Linked DNA regions of Homo sapiens: region 1 is linked to region 2. Evidence: fine-mapped expression QTL. Tissue or cell type: whole blood. Region 2 holds a variant in brackets; the other region holds the start of a gene. All regions are shown on one strand. Distances are from middle to middle.

What was found. PIP is the estimated chance that this variant, and not a neighbour inherited with it, causes the effect.
Region 1: IL15 starts here. The variant in region 2 is fine-mapped to the expression of IL15 in whole blood (INTERVAL, PIP 0.98).

Annotation. Positions count from the first base shown.
Region 1 is chr4:141,633,331-141,641,440 of GRCh38, reverse strand. IL15 (interleukin 15) reads right to left here and starts at 4,858. Exons shown (of 8, transcript NM_000585.5): 1 at 4,693-4,858. RefSeq lists an enhancer at 4,856-4,945.
Region 2 is chr4:141,340,579-141,348,688 of GRCh38, reverse strand. No RefSeq gene overlaps it. Among named protein-coding and RNA genes, the nearest start is that of LINC02432, 12 kb to the right of the region's middle. The variant T/A (reference allele first, on the strand shown) is at 4,951.

The sequences.
Region 1 (8,110 bases), 290 kb before region 2:
GGTTGGTTCCAAGTCTTTGCTATTGTGAATAGTGCTGCAATAAACATGTGTCTTTACAGCAGCATGATTTATAATCCTTTGGGTATATATGTTTTAGTTTTATGCTTAATAATCACTTATCAAAAATTAATGGTTCCTTTGATTAATTTTATAATGATAGTGTTTTAAATAACATAAGCTAGAATAATTTTCACAACGAAAATCCTTCAAATAAAAAATCAAGTTTTATGTACTTATTTTTGTTGCAGATGAGTCAGGAAAATAGAAAATCTTTAACAGTAAAATGTTCAATTAAGAAAAAATCATTTGATAATTTTAGAGGTCAGTGCTAACAGTGTGCAAGGACTACTTTGTCAGATTTCTATTAGAAGGCACATAAGCAAAATACCCAGGAAGGAGAAGTAGCATTCAGTGATATAAGGGACCAAAGACCCTCTCTGGGCTCCTTTCGTGTGTCACAATGATAAGCAGAGCTTACCCCCACCACCACCGCCATCAACCTTACAACCATCATATTTTCCTGTTCTACAACCATTTTCAGTTTCAATTCCCTCATTTCACAAAATAATTTGTCACTTTCCTGATTTTGTCTGCACCCTGTCAGCACTTGGAGGAACTATTAGCATTTAGAGAAGAAACAACTGTGTATTACATGCAGACTTTTTAAAAATCCATTTTTATACGGTCTACATAGAGTCTTCTGCCCCTGCAGTGGGATGAAACACTATAAAATAAATGCATACAAATACCCTGGCTCTGGATGTGAAATGTGGACAAATAATATTATTGAACTAAACTGAGATTAAAGAGCCTCTTTTTCTCCTCTTTCTGACTCCAGCACTAAACAACTTTTTTTTTTGTTTGTTTAAAAAAGGGCAATATTCTTTGACATAGGCAAATTCATAAATAGCATTAAATCACCCCAAATGGTGACCAGGGTCTATTTCAAGGTAAGGATAGCAGCATTTTAGTTGTCAGTACACTGAACACCTGAGTTTTCTTAGAAGAGAATGCATATGATATCCGAAAAGGAGCATTAACATTAGAATCAAGATAAATCTCAGTGGAGTGTCTGTCTTACCTAGTTGTGTCCTAATGCAAGCAAAACTCTGCATGTCTTTTTTTTTTTTTCTTTGTAAATTCAGGATAAAAATGCAATGGTTATTCAAATTCAATGAGGACATACAGATGAAGTGCCAGTATGGTGGCTGAAACATAGCAGAGGCTTCCTCTTTGAAACTTTCAAATTCACATTAGGTTCCTACTGGAATGGCACTGTTAATAACAATAATTTGTCCTTCAGGCTTTCTGTCAAGATTTCTTAGCTTCTTATGTTTATATATTCAATACAGTCTGGAAGCTGAGTAAAAAGTAAACCTTGTCTGCCCACAGCTGTTAACAAATAGTACAGTACAATATATACATACACACACATATATGCACATACACAGTATATATACACATATAGTCATATATGCACACATATAGACATATAGTTGATAGTATTTAATTAGTGAAATTTACCATCAAATAGGTGTTAGTGCATTCCAGTACTCACTAAAATAACAATTTTTCCTTCAACTCCTCTATGGAATTTTTCCATCCAACCCATTCCTATAGGACAGCAGCAAGTATTTAAGCAATGTTCAGTGTCAGTAGTCTCATGCAGTTACTGTAATCAACGGGTAAGTAAATCAAAGAGCTAATATCGAGCAAAAGAAGTGGCTTCTTGCCAAACCTTCTACCATAATGCCTTCTGAAGAGAGGATGTCCCAAATAGTTAACTATATCATCTCCAGTTGGGATATTATGGGAAACTCTTCTTCTCTGACCTCTCCATGAATCCCAGACTTCTAGTTGTATGGAAGAAGGGATACATAGATAGGCAGAGACAGATATCTAGATCAATCCACATTTGCCTACTATTTGTCAGGCTCTTTCAGCAGAAAGTGATGCAGATTAGACAAATGTTTTCATTCAGGGACCATAAAGGAAATTTCTCCAATATACCAAACACATATTTGACACTCAAATGAATATTATTTGATTATAAAGATAATCTTTAAATATATAATAATGTCAATTGCACAAGTACCATACAAACATTACTTTAAAACCGGCATTCTACCATTACAACGCTGCCTGAAAATAAGTAGGGATTATCACTGTCAAATTGTACGAAATATTTGTATGCAAATAATACCATCCTCCATAAATACCACCAGTCTTAAACTTGTCTCAGTTGGAATTCCAACTCTACCACTTTCTAGCTCTGTGACCTTGATAATTTCCTCAGCTGTAAAATATATTGCCTACCACATAAGTTTATTACGATGTTTTTAAAAAATACATCCTTAGAACAATGTCTGATACATAATAAGAACTCAACAATGTTAGTTATTATTCATACTGTTTCTCATAACTTAAGTTATAGGTCTGAAGACAGAACTCTGTATTATGATCAGCTAACCTTCAGAAAAATAGTTAACACAATGAGCAGAACTCAACATTAAACTCCAGGAGAGATGAGGGGAAAAGGACAGTAGTCTATATTTTCAAAAGATTTAAAACTCTTTTGGGTCAGAGACCCATTTAAAAAGCTGATCAAAGTTACGGATATTTTCCTGAGAAAAATCCACATGTACCCAGCATTTCAGGGCTGCTCTTCTAGCTGTCCTGAAATTCATCAGAGGCAGCAAATCTGAGATGGAGTATCCCGTAGGCTTTAAAACCTTCCACTTCCAAAATCTATTTCGATAAACCTTAAACCACTGTTTTCTCCATCCCCCAAGGAAATTTATAAACATTGTGCCTTGCAATATAGCTGTTGACATTGGCTACATTAATTTCATGGATTAAAACAAAAGAGCATCATTTTAATCACCAGTAGTCTGCAGGAAAATTCCAACCAGAACTATAGCTTCCAATCAGGTTCTGGAGTTGCCACTCCAAATCAGCAAGGAACAGTGAAACCAAAAGTATGGGAACACCCTGCCTATCAGAAGTTCCAGACCAATGGTCAACTGACCCTTCTCTGTCACTGTTGCAAAGCAGATGATACTGCAGGAGAGACTTTTCTGATTGACTAAAATTCTGTGAGAATTTTACACGAATAAGGACCCGAAACTAAGACAATCATAACAAACCTTAAGATCTCTATGATACTTGTTAACTTTAAGCAAAACTAGCTTTTTCTTCACTTTTTAAATCTAAATGGCTTTTGCTGTATTTTCAGTTCTTCTCTTTATATGTCTTTATGTTCCTTCCCATGTATTTCCTTGCTCTGTTGGCCACATTACTTCACACGAAAACAACAGGAGTTTAAAAATTTAACCTGTATTATATCTTTTTTATTCATTTATTTATTTTTTGACAGGCTGGAGTGCAGTGGCAGATCATATAGCTCACTATAAACTGGAACTCCTGGTCTCAAGCTATCCTCTCGCCTCGGCCTTCCAAAAGTGTATTGTATCTTGATGCTTTCAGTAGAATGGTTCACCTTATAACCTCTACATGGCAGGATGCATAATCACCAGTTTATTCTGTAATACCTGAGCAAAAATTCAGCCTAGCTAATATGGCCTCTTTCACCACACTGACAAGATAAGGATGACGTCCACTTAGTTGGCCACCACCAGTATCATAATATTAGATAGTAGTTTAAAAATATATAATGGAAACTAGCTGGTGACCACCACTTTACTTCCAGTTTTGAAATTGCTGACTCATCCTATTTAAGAATCTGTTGTAAGCATCATTTAAGAATTAGTTTGGTTTAGACATACTTTGAAGTCAACATAGTTTTTAATGCATGGAATTACATAAAGTCAAATGAACTATATACCCTTGCTACATGCGGTCTTAATAACACTTGAAAAAATTGGCTGGATTTTCATTTAAAAGCCACCTTGAATAATGATTTTATTTCAGTGAAATTCGCTCGTATTTTTTCCAAGTTCCTTCGACATTCTAGATACACTATCGCTTCTCTAAGAGATAACTGGCTGGCGCAGAGTTGGAACCAATACAGACCCAGGCCTGACTGCCAAGCACTGACCATTCCTGCAAATTTCTCTCCCAGAAGACGTGTGCAAGCAAAGAAGAGGGCGATAATTTGATTTTGCAAAGGTAGGGATAGACGCGCACGCACAGACATCTGCACCGGCCCACAATGAGTTTGGGACGGGAGCAGTTAGGAAGTGGGGAGCTGCGGTACCTTTTCTTGGCCTTCCTGAGCTTGACTGGGTGCAGAACTCAGCCCTCAGGGCTGCGGGACAGCGTCTTCTCAGAAACCCGCAGCTTGGCTGGGGCCGCCAGACGCGCGTCCCTCACCCTCCCAGCGGAGCGCGGGGTGCCCGGCCCGCCTTGCGCTAGCCAGCAGCCTGGAACGCCGTAAGAGCGCAGCGCAGTAGGGAGTCGCACGCCAGGGGCAAAGGGACCTGCGATCTGCGCTCCTCCGGAAGCGGGAGGATGGCTAGGAGAGCCTCAGAAGTGTCATTAAAGGAAAAACCAAAAATTGAAGTTGCGGCTAAGTTTTCCCCATGAGAAGGCGGGGCAGCTCGGCCAGTAGGATAGACCGGAGGGTAACGCTGGAGCTGGGAGGGGCCCTGGGCGTAGGCTTTCGGGGAAAATTCCATCGCCCTTTCAACCACCACCACTCCCCTCCCAAGGCAAAGAAGCCGAGCTCTGTACCTCCATCGAGTCCTGGCTGCAGGGTGGGGGGCGACAGCCACCGCAGCCGGGAGGGTGCGGCCACCCAGTTCCCTCCCGGGGGGCGCCGGACTTCGAAGGCAGTGAGCGAGTCAGCTGGGATTCCCCCGGGCGCCTGCCACCCGGAGTCCCAACCCCTGGCGAAAAGAAAAGTGAAAGAGAAAGAGCCGGGAGCATAGGCGAAGACAAACACCTCCCGCGGAGACTGGGGGTGGGGCGGGTGGCGGCGGCTCCTGGATGACTGACTGCCCCAGGTGTCACTGCTTCCCGGCCTGTTTCCGTCCCTGCCGGGGCCTGGGGCGCAGAACTTGCAGGGCAAGCGCAAGGACATCGAGGAGCCCCAGCCCCGCCCTGCAGGAACACCAGCCACCGGTCTCCTCCTCTACCTGCCGGGACACCTGCAGAGAAGGCACAAGGATAGCCGCATCCCAAGCGACGGGCACCATGTGGGAAGCTTCCGCAGCTGAACCTGGAGACCCGGGCTGGGCTGGCGCGCATCCAAGTCTTCCTGAGGAAAGGGAAAAGGATGTCGGATCTGGATGCTGGGCGGCTACTCTAGACCGGCCTCTTGGTCCCCGCACAGGCTGCAAGAAGGAAACTTTGAAGTCCAACTAGGGGAAATGTTGGAAGAAGACACCCGGGTGGCAGCTTTGTGCAAGACAGTTGGTACAGGGAGTGAACTTAGAGCAATGAGCCTCTCTGCGGATCACTTTTCCAGCCTATTGTGTAGTCCAGTGTAAAATATCACACATGGTCCCATTTGATGGAAGCGTGAGATGTTGTTCTTGTAGTATTTTTACATTGGAGGAAGGAACTGAGTTGAGGCTGAGTGATTTGCATGCCATAAAGGCAGTAGCAAAGATCTCACGCTTAGTTTTGAAAGTACTTTGCAGAATCTTGCACTCTTGTGAATCACTGAAAATCCCTCTTGTACGGTGCTTTCCAAATTTTCAGAGTCATGGTTCAGAGAAAATGATGTCTTCCTGGAGCGCAGTTTAATTTAGTTTAAAATTTAATTATGTTTTTAATTACATAAATATGATAAATATCAAATAGAAAAATAATAGAAATTATTCACTTTCCATGTACATAAAGTTCCGTATAATATAATTTCATATTTTTATGAAAAATTTGAGTTTATTTTCATTAACTCAATTTTTTGATATCAGTTTTATATTTGAAATAATTACTGATGGACTTTTTGATGAGAATTACATCAAACTCTAGATAGTCTCCATTAACAAAATAAGTGAGGTATAAAAATGCAAAAACAGTTTTTACAACCATTCAAAATTTCACCATAGTTGGAAATTATATTTAAGAATATGAAGCCATCATCCATTTCTGTTCATGACGATGTCATGTTGAATTTTCTTGTGATGGTGTCAATGGATTTCAAGACCAGTCAGAATTTTTCATAGCAATACATTGAAGCTCTGATTTGCAGAATGAGCATGCACTGGGAGAGCAAGACTGCAGCTGGTTTGGATCTCACCACAAGAATATAGCAGCCACGGAAGGACTGATATGCATATGTGTGAAGATAGAGAATAGGGATGAACAAGTGTATCATGTGTCCCAACCTCATTTTGGACTGTTGCAGAGCTTCCTGGACTCCTGCCATGTAAACTCCTCTAGCACCTCTTTCAGCTCCTTTAATGGATACTGTGTTCTCTGCAGCCGGTGAAGGAAGCAGGTGTCCACGCTCAGCACCACCTAGCAGAGCTCAATATCAGATATTGCTGCTGCCAGAGGACATATCATCACATCTCAGATCCTGTCTCTCTTGGACTGCCCACAAACTCTATAGAAAGTGCTCTCAGCTGGTGCTCACTAGCCTGTGGGCTTCAGCTTTGTTAGCTGTCTGCAGGACTCAGGGCCATCAGTATCTGACTGCATACTTTTAATATATTGAGACCACCAAGAACGTTCTGAGCTACTAGAGAGTTTTCACAACACTATGAAATTGACGGAAAGTTTACTTGTAGGGTGAACTTAAGGCATAATCTGAGTATATAACAGTAAGAAAATTGGTCTACAACTGTTTATTGGGTTTCAACTATAGTAGGTTCTAGAACAAGATGGACTAAATGATATATAAAGCATTTTGTCAGAGTAGGGAGATAAAAAACATAAATAACAGTAAAGTACAACTAAAAATTATTATAGTCATAAGATATGCTTTGCTCTACTATTTGCCTCCCAAATATGTTGGTCAAATTTGTTTTCATAAATACAGATGTTTTAAAAGTATTTTTAATTAGTTATGAGTGCCTGCAGTTCAATGAAGTTGGGTTTGCAACATAATTTGTTTTTGTTGCATTGCACTCAAAAAGAAAAGTCTAATGTATGCAACTTGTGTTTTCAGTTGCCACAGGCTGTTTGGCAAAATATTGAAAATTACTCATACCAATGAACAAGTAAATTCTGCTGCATAAATTAAAAGCAAAGATGAAGATTGATGAAATAATTTGAAACTGTCTTAAGATAACTAATAAAATTACAGGGTAGAAAGAAGTGGAGATTAACTAAATCTCATAGAAGTGACCATAATAATCTTCCTGAATTCAAATAATTAACAATAAAATTATAGTTTAATAAATTTTTAATATCTTTTTTCAAAAACAATGTCAATTGGGCAATCATCTTTAAAATAAATTACTAATAATTTATTTTCTAGCTTTTGTGATTACATGGAAGAAGTTACAAGTTATTTCATCTGATTTAGTGTTCAAAGTCCATGACTGTGGCCTTATTTATGGTTTTACTAAGATTTAAACCTCCCATCAAGAACAAGTTGATCCCCTGCTCTTTGGAAAACATGGCCTGCCTGGGTTCTCTACATTTCCATTCGGGGTAAAGCATGCTGAAATGCAGCATTACCTCGAAGTTGCTTCTCACATTTTTTTCTGGTGATCCTGACAATAGACAGATACTCTTGGCCTTAAATACTATTTAGGTTTTCAAGAGCTCCTCAAGTTGCTGCTTTTTCAGAACCACAACAGTATTAGTTAGGACTTCTGTAGTTCCTCCAATCTGCTATTTCTCCAGTGCTGTGCTAAACACAAATGTTAACTTATTAAATCCTCACAGCAAAGCTATGAGATATAAACTATTATTATCTCCATTTTACAAATGGGAAAACCAAGGCCCAAAGAATTATACAGCTTGCCTAAGATCACATGGAAATTGACTGACCCAGCAAGGATTTGAACTCAGACAGTCTGGCTTGAATACACATTCCTACTCTCTGGTGCCTTTAAATTGGCAGCCATTCTCCACTGTTTCTAAAACTGAATTCATAAGGAAAGAAGCGTGGACCCCCAGACAGTATGTCTTAGTCCAATTTTGTTTGCTTCAGGGTAACTTTAGTCACCACCAGGCAGGAAACTTTTCAGTT
Region 2 (8,110 bases):
GACTTTCCAAACCCTTTCCCAAGCCATAGGCTGACTAGAAACATGGTTTGCCTTCCAGGTCTCCAGAGGACAGTTTTGCTAGATGTGCTGTGATGGCAGGACAATAGAAGTATACTTTTTTACCACCTGACATGCCTGTTCTTGATTCACAGTTGACTATGCTGCAAGCGCCAAGCAGTGACTTAGAAACCCAGTCTCTTTCCACCTTAGGGTTCCACCATCATTAACATACAGCTTTTGGAGCCACTAGGTTCATTTCTGCATGAATCTGATAGGAGAAAAAACAAGAAGCCTCTTGTATCAAGATTTGTTATGAGCCATGGCCCTGAAGTGCCATGTCATTTCCTCTTACATGTGCATTGTCCAGAACTCAGTTACGTGGTCATGCAAAACTGCAAGAGAAGCTGGGAAACACTATGTTTGTGCAACAGAAGAAAAAGAAACAGGCTTGGTAAACAGCTAGTCTGTTTCTGCCTCCAGGGCTCTATAGCTTCTAGGAGTGAGCTCATTGGCTATGTAGACTTCTAGAAAATTTATTCATAAGAAAAATAGTAAAAAAAAAATCCCACCACTGAAAAATTATAAAGGGACGATGCAAGACAAAAATAGTATTTTGATTATCTTTGATTTGTTGGAAGTATAATTTTCAGCGATCAAATGTGCAGCACTGGGTAGTATCAGTTCTGTTTAGTTTGGAAACATACTACTTGAAGTTCTCTGGGCTAATTTTTCTGACCTGAACTGACTGTTCTCAGATTCATTACACAATTGTCATCCTGGGACTTCCCTGCACCATCGTTTAGATAGTCCCTTTATCCCTCTCCTGTCATGTAGCATCTTTTACTTGGATGCAGAGGCTTCCTCTTTTTGTTGGTCCTCTTTCTGATGAAGTACATAATAGTGTTCTGAGAAATATGAACAGAATGCACATTTTTTGAGATCCCACATATTGGAAAATATCATTCTACATTCACAGTTGATTGATAGCTTGGCTGAGCTTGTAATTCTGGGTTGTAATTCATTTCTCCTTACAAGTTTGAAGGGACTTCTCCATTGTTTGAGTACCATCTTTTGAATGTGACCTGTTATTTCTACCTGGCTACTTTTAGGGTTGTCTTTTTATCCTCACGGTTCTGAAATTTCATGTTGTTATGTGTTGATGCAGATTTTCTATCATTCATTTTTGGGCACTCAGATGGCTGTCAACCTAGAAATTCAAAGCTTTCAATACTCACAAGTTTTCCTACATTATTTCTTGAAGATTTTTTCCCCTCTCTCTCTGATTTTTATTCTCTTTCTTGAAAACATAATAGTTAAACATTTTGACCCTGATTTGGTCGACTGATTTTTTTAAAATATTTTCTTTCTTATCTGCTATGTCTTTCTCTTTTTGTTCTAATTTTCTGGAAGAGTCTTCACTTTATCTTTTGTATTTCTATTAAATTTTTTTACTTCTGCTGAAAATATTTTTCTTATGAATTTCTTATTCTTTTATTTTTATAGCTCCCTGTTATTGCTTCAGAAGTAAAATATATTTCCCGCATTCCCTAGGATATTTATCTTATCATTTTTTTCTTCTGTTCCTACACTGTCTTTACTTCCTCTGAGTTCCTTTCATCTTGCTCTTGGCTCTGACTTTCAAATGAGATGCTTTCTTCACATGTCTAGTGGTCCCTGTCTACCTATTCAAATTTATAACCAATCAGTAGCTCTGTCTGGGTGGCAGAACATTTGAATTGGTGGGCCTCATTGTAGGGTGATTAAAACCCAGAAATCTCAGAGTATGTAGATCTTTTCCCTTTAGCCAATCAACTACTCCATAGAGAAATCCCCTAATATACTGCCCATTGGACCTAAGCCACACCTACTCACTTTCTGTATGTTAAGAGGGAGAAAGGCTAAGGTTTATCAATGCACATTATTTAGATGTTTACTTAAGTCCCCTTTTATCAATATCACATCTTAGCTTTCATTCTACTGTTCATTCAAGATTCTTTCAAGACCAGCTTGAATGAATATGCTTTAATAAAAACACAGATTGCACTACAAAACCAAATAGTGTTAAATTTATATTATGCAACAGAATTGTCTGCAAGCTAAGTAGAAAAGGACATCTCCCCTTTATAGATGATTTTTTGGGTTATAAAAATATTATGAAGTAGTAATGATATATTTGCATGCCATCATCTACATTTTTCTTTCATTAACTTTGTCAAATTCTATTTTCAAAGAGCTTCGTTTGTCCTTTGAGGACAAATTCAACTTGTCAGGAAGCCAGCTTCAGGCAATGTCTTTCCCAGTGGCCTGCTGTATTGGTCCACATGAGATATGAAACAGAGACATCTAAAGGACATTTTAGGAACTGGAACATTAATATTTACTCTCCATCCTTTATGACTGATTCCCTTGGAAATGAGGTCTGTAGTTTATTATGAAGCTGGAAAACCTCACTTTGTAAAATTAAATTCAAAGCCACAATCATATGCCTTTTCTAACAAGATTCAAGAGAAGGCTAGAATCACCAACAGTTTTAAATGAAGAGTTATTTTAACAAAAAATATCAGAATTCATCTATTTGCCCTAAAATTATTGGAAGGAAATTGACTTAGAGTAAGCTATTTCTAGTAGTGTCACATTTTGATTTTTATTATATTTGTCCATAGTGTTACGTATAATATAGGTACCTAGTAAATAAAAATAAATAAGCAAGTTATTAAATGAACAATTAATTGATTAAAATCTGAATAAATGTAACTCAGGCATTTTTCTGACTGATTCCTCTTTAAATAGTAATTCCCAATACTCATCTTTTGGCTTGATCAGGCTTAGAGGAGTTATGACAGAATTATATGTGCAAATCTTAAATGTTAACATACACAATAATGGCATTTTTACCAGAAGCATTATTTTCCCAAATGGATAAGAAGTAATAATGAAATTTAAATCTTCTTTTCTAACAAAGGAATTGAGATAATATCTTCTTGTTCGACAGACTCTGAGTTGTTAAAAGCTTTGGTCTAAGCCATCTAATTGCCATAAAAAATTACTTTTCCTGGAAAGCTGGGGTCTAGTTCCAAGGCCACAGGAATGTCAGCTTCTTTAATGCAAAGTTTAAAAATAAATACAAGAAACAATTGCAAACCATATGACAGATTTTTTAAGGCATGTATACTTCAACTACTTCTGTGAATATTAATTTTTCCTTATGCCTTTTAAGTTCATAAGTACATGCTCGTCACTATCATACAAGACAGAGAAACAGAAAGAAAGAAACGGAAGAAGAAATATTCCAGATCTCTGTGTTGCCCACCATTCTGGGTGGTAAAATCTTAATTATGACAACACAAGTCCACGTGATAGAGGAACATATTAGAGGTCAGAGGTGCTTTGAAAACCAGCCAGTTTCACTATTCTTTTAAATTAAAGTAAGTTCAATTAATTCATGAAGCTATAATGTAAATTCAACCATCTAAGATTTCAACTAGCAAAGATGAGGAGAAAATCCCAAAATGACCACTAACATCTTGTTCAGAACTGGTCTGTTTTGAGACGGCTACATTTTCACCATGCTCTCAGGTGGCCTTTCCTCTGTGCACTCACAGAAAGAGAGAGAGCTCTGGTGTCCCTCTCTCTTCTTATAAAGACATCAATCCTACTGGATTAGTGCCCATACCTATGATCTAATTTAATCTTAATTACTCTCTTAAAAGCCCTATTTCCAAATACATACTGAGTCAGGGCTTCAACATATGAATTTTGTGGGGTTGCATTTCAGTCCATAACAAATATATAGGAGGCACGGGCTCAAACCTACAAGTACTTTTCTTCTTCTACTCCAGAAACAACTCCTTGAATTCCTCCTCTAGAATTGCTGCCCAGATGGTTTGGTAGACCATTAGAAATGTTAATATCCTAGTCCCAGAATTTTATATTATTCTCTGGGTTTCTAAATTATCTTACACTTGTATCAAATATAATTACATATTTTAAAGAACTTCTTAAATTCTGACCAAATTTATCCCAAACTTTTAAATGGATAGGACAAATTTTATGATTAAAAATTATTTTGAAAAATTTTACCTATTAATACTAATATTAATTTTTAAAATGTTATCTGTTAATAAAACAGAACTTCTTCTACTTAATATTAACCTAGAACTCCTAGTTCTATATAAACTTGAAATCAATAAAACTGCATTTCCTTTAAAATGTATTGTAACTCAGAATGTACACTATTTTAAGGTGACTCTTCCTAATCATTAATTTTCTTACATAATTTGTTTTGTGTGCTTTTTAAAACTATGATTGCCTATTCTGAATTAGAAACTCTTGAAAGATGTGTGATGGCCTATTTAACTCACTCTGCGTACTAACTAATAGAATTGTAGCTTAATATATGTTGTATCTAACAATTAAAGTTAATACAAGAGATTAAAGTGAGTAAGTCATCTAATTAGACATCCAATCTGTCCCCAATCTTACTAACATTTGTTTTCTTCATGTCCCTCACATCTACTCTTTAGCATTCTTCTTTCACATCTATGATCAAGGCCCCCATTAGTTAGACAAGGTTTTATGCCAGATCCTCTGGCATGAACCCCAAGCCATCCTGCACACATGGATCAAATCTAAATCTATATTGTATAATCTTTCTTCCCCTATGTCATTACACTACATGGCAATCTTCATTGGCTCCTCATGGCCTATAGGATAAATTCATGCTCTTGAGTCTGGCATCTGTCGTTCTCAATTGTTTGATTTCTCAGTTCACCTTCTTAACTTTATCCACATACCCACAGCTAAGAGTCCCCTAACCCCCTTCTTTCTGGCTGAGTCTACATATTTCATTGTCCCCCAAAACAAATTGTAATGGTAACTCAGGTGGTTCTTGAATTAAAAAACATTGTGGATCCAACAGATTGAGAGCAGTGCCTAAAAATTAACAGGATG[T/A]CAGCCCTTCTTCCTTCTCAGGTATCTATAAATATCCCAGATTTTTTAGTTCAAAGAAGGGAAGAAGTATGGAATTGCCTTATCAATCAGTAATTTCAGATGCCACCTGCATCCTGGCTTCCCTCTGCTTCAGATGTTGTGTTTACTATCTCTCTTGATTATCTTTTTAATCACTCCTTTCTGCCATGTTGAACCATTCCAAACCATCCCACCATGCCATTGGTCAAACACATTGCCTACCTTCTGTGTGGGCTCCCCACAGTTGGGACCGACCTGCTACACAGTGACGAATAACCCTGTGGTATCAGATGCCTTCATGACAGCTCCTCGGAGCTCCTCAGTGTCTCCCACCTCTGTGTCTCAGACTGGGAAAAACTCCTAGACCCCCAAGCATTCAATTTTTTACTAAGGCTAGCAAAGAAAAAAAAATCTCAGCAGAATGATTGGGATCCCTAGCTATATATTTTGTTCAGTTTTACAATATTCCCAGGGAACACAGATGCTCCAGGGGTCAGTCTCAGGGTAAGATCAAGTACAAACTGATGATATGCCCTGAATAGCTGAATGACTGTGCCACCAGTTTCCTTCTTTTCTTCCTTTCTTTCCCTCCTTTTCTTCCCCCATTTATTTTTCCTTCCTACCTTCCTTCCTTTCCTTCCTTCCTTCCTTCCTTCCTTCCTTCTTTCTTTCTTTCTGTTTCTTTTACAGGGTCTTGCTCTGCCTGGCCCCCATCAGGGCTCACTCCAACCTTGATATCCTGGCCTCAAGCAACCCTCCCACCTAAGCCCCCCAAGTGCCTAGGACAAGCACATGCAACCATGCCCAGCTAATTCTTTCTTAATTTTTAAAATAGATGAAGTTTTGCTATATTGCCTAGGTTGTTCTCAAACTCCTGGCCTCAAGTGGGATTACAGATGTGAACTGCCATGCCCAGACTCTTTCTTTTATTGCAGTAAAAAATATATATAAAACTTACCATTTCAACCATTTTTAAGTGTACACTTCAGTAATATTAAGTGTATTCCCAATGTTGTGCAGCAGATCTCAAGAACTTTTTTATCTTGCAAAACTAAAACCCTATATCCACTTAACACTAATTTTCTCTCCCACTTCCCAAGCCTTTTGCAATGACCTTTCTACTTTCTGCTTCTGTGATCTTGACTTCTTTATGTACCTCATGTAAGTAGATTCATACAGTATTTGTCCTTTTGTGACTGGTATATTTTGCTTCACACAATGTCTTTGAGATTCATCACTGTTTATAACATATTTTAGAATTTCCTTCCTTTTTAAGGCTGCACAACATTCCATTGTATGTACATATTACATTTTTTAATCCATTCATCTGTTGATAAACATTTGCGTTACTTCCATCTCTTGGCTATGGTGATGTAAGTAAAATGGCTGTTTAAACATCTCTTCAAGTTCTTGCTTTGAATTCTTTTGGATATATATCCAGAGTATAGTTGCTGTATCTATGGTAATTCTATTTTTAATGTTTTAAAGAACCTCTATACTGCTTTCCATAATGTCTTCTCTATTTTACATACCCACCAACAGGGCACAAGGATTCCAACTTCTCTGCATCCTCAGCAACATTTTTTATTTTCTATTTTTTTGATAGTGGCCATCTTAACGGGTGTGAGGTAATATCTTGTTATGGTCCTGGTTTGCATTTCTCTTATGTTAGTGATGTTGAGCATCTTTTCATATGCTTGTTAAATATTTGTATATCTTCTTTAGAGAATTGTCTATTCATATCCTTTGCCTATTTTTAAGTCAGGCTATTTGTTTTGTTGTTGTTGAGTTGTAAAAGTTCCTTATATAGTCTAGATACTAACCCCTTATCACATACATGATTGGCAAATTTTTTATCCTATTTTTTAGTAGTTTTTTCATTCTGATGTTTCCTTCACACACTTCTAATTTAAAATGATATGACAACCTAATATACCCAAAAAATATGTAAAGACATTCCTCGATCCTATGGTACAGTAAGTTAGAACCCCCAGCACAACTTTGTAAATGTTTCTTTTTTTTCTTCCATTTATATTCTTTGGTTATTTAGTTACAAGGAACAGAAACTCACTCAAATTACAGAAAAGTTCGTGAACTAGACCCCAAGAAAAATAGGATAAGATGGTGGGATGGTTTGAGGATCAAGGCAGTTCTAAGGGCTTCAGCAACAGCCATTCACAAATCTTCGTTAAAACTCAGTCATTAATATGACTCTGCACTTCTCTAAGTGGTTCCTTCTTCTTATACCACGATCCACTACTCCATCATCTTCTAATCCAGTGCTTCTCAAATTATATACAGTAAAGGAACATCCTTCCCCCACATCTCAATCCATCATAGGCCAGTACTTTTATAAAACACAAAACCATGCATTTGGATGTCACAGCAATGTTAAACTTTTATGCAGTCTAAAAGCTTAGCTTCTTCTCTTTTTCTTTGCTTATTGCAGACTGGTAACTAACAGTTAACAGACCAAAACTAATGTTCATATACCACACTTTCAACAACATTGCATCTGCTTTCTTGTAGTTTCTGATTGTTCATATCTTTGGGTTGCAAGTGGCCCTTCATAGTCTCTCCACTCTTTCCTACCTTACAACCTATAAATTTTGCTCCACTTCCACCCATTAACTGCCTTCCCTCTCAGTTCGTGTTCGAGAGAAAGGAAATTGCATTGTCTTGTCACCTTTTCTGCTATGTCAATGATTTCCTTTGGTTCACTTGTCCACCCTTATCCAATAACATCTGAATGGATACATAGAATCGCATGGCATGACACATGCATGACTAAGGAGCACCCCTTTGGAGATTACAGACATGGCATAAATAAATGCTCTGACGGACACATAATTTTCAGAGTTCTTAAATTTGTGTAGTATCTTACAAGAGGCTAATAAAGAGCAATAAAAAATTCTGCATTACCAGATAGAGTCCTAGTTAAATAACAAGTGTGGTTTTCTCTCATTGGAAAGAATGGACTGTTCAGTGCCTTCCCTGGGCAAGCTGAGATGCTGAGATGCTGTGGCCAGTAATTGTCAGAGCAATGCTTCACGTGCAATCCCTAGTGCTCACCTTAATTGGATGTGCCATTAATCCTTGTTCGCTAACATGACCTGAATCCAGGAATAAGTAAACATGTTCT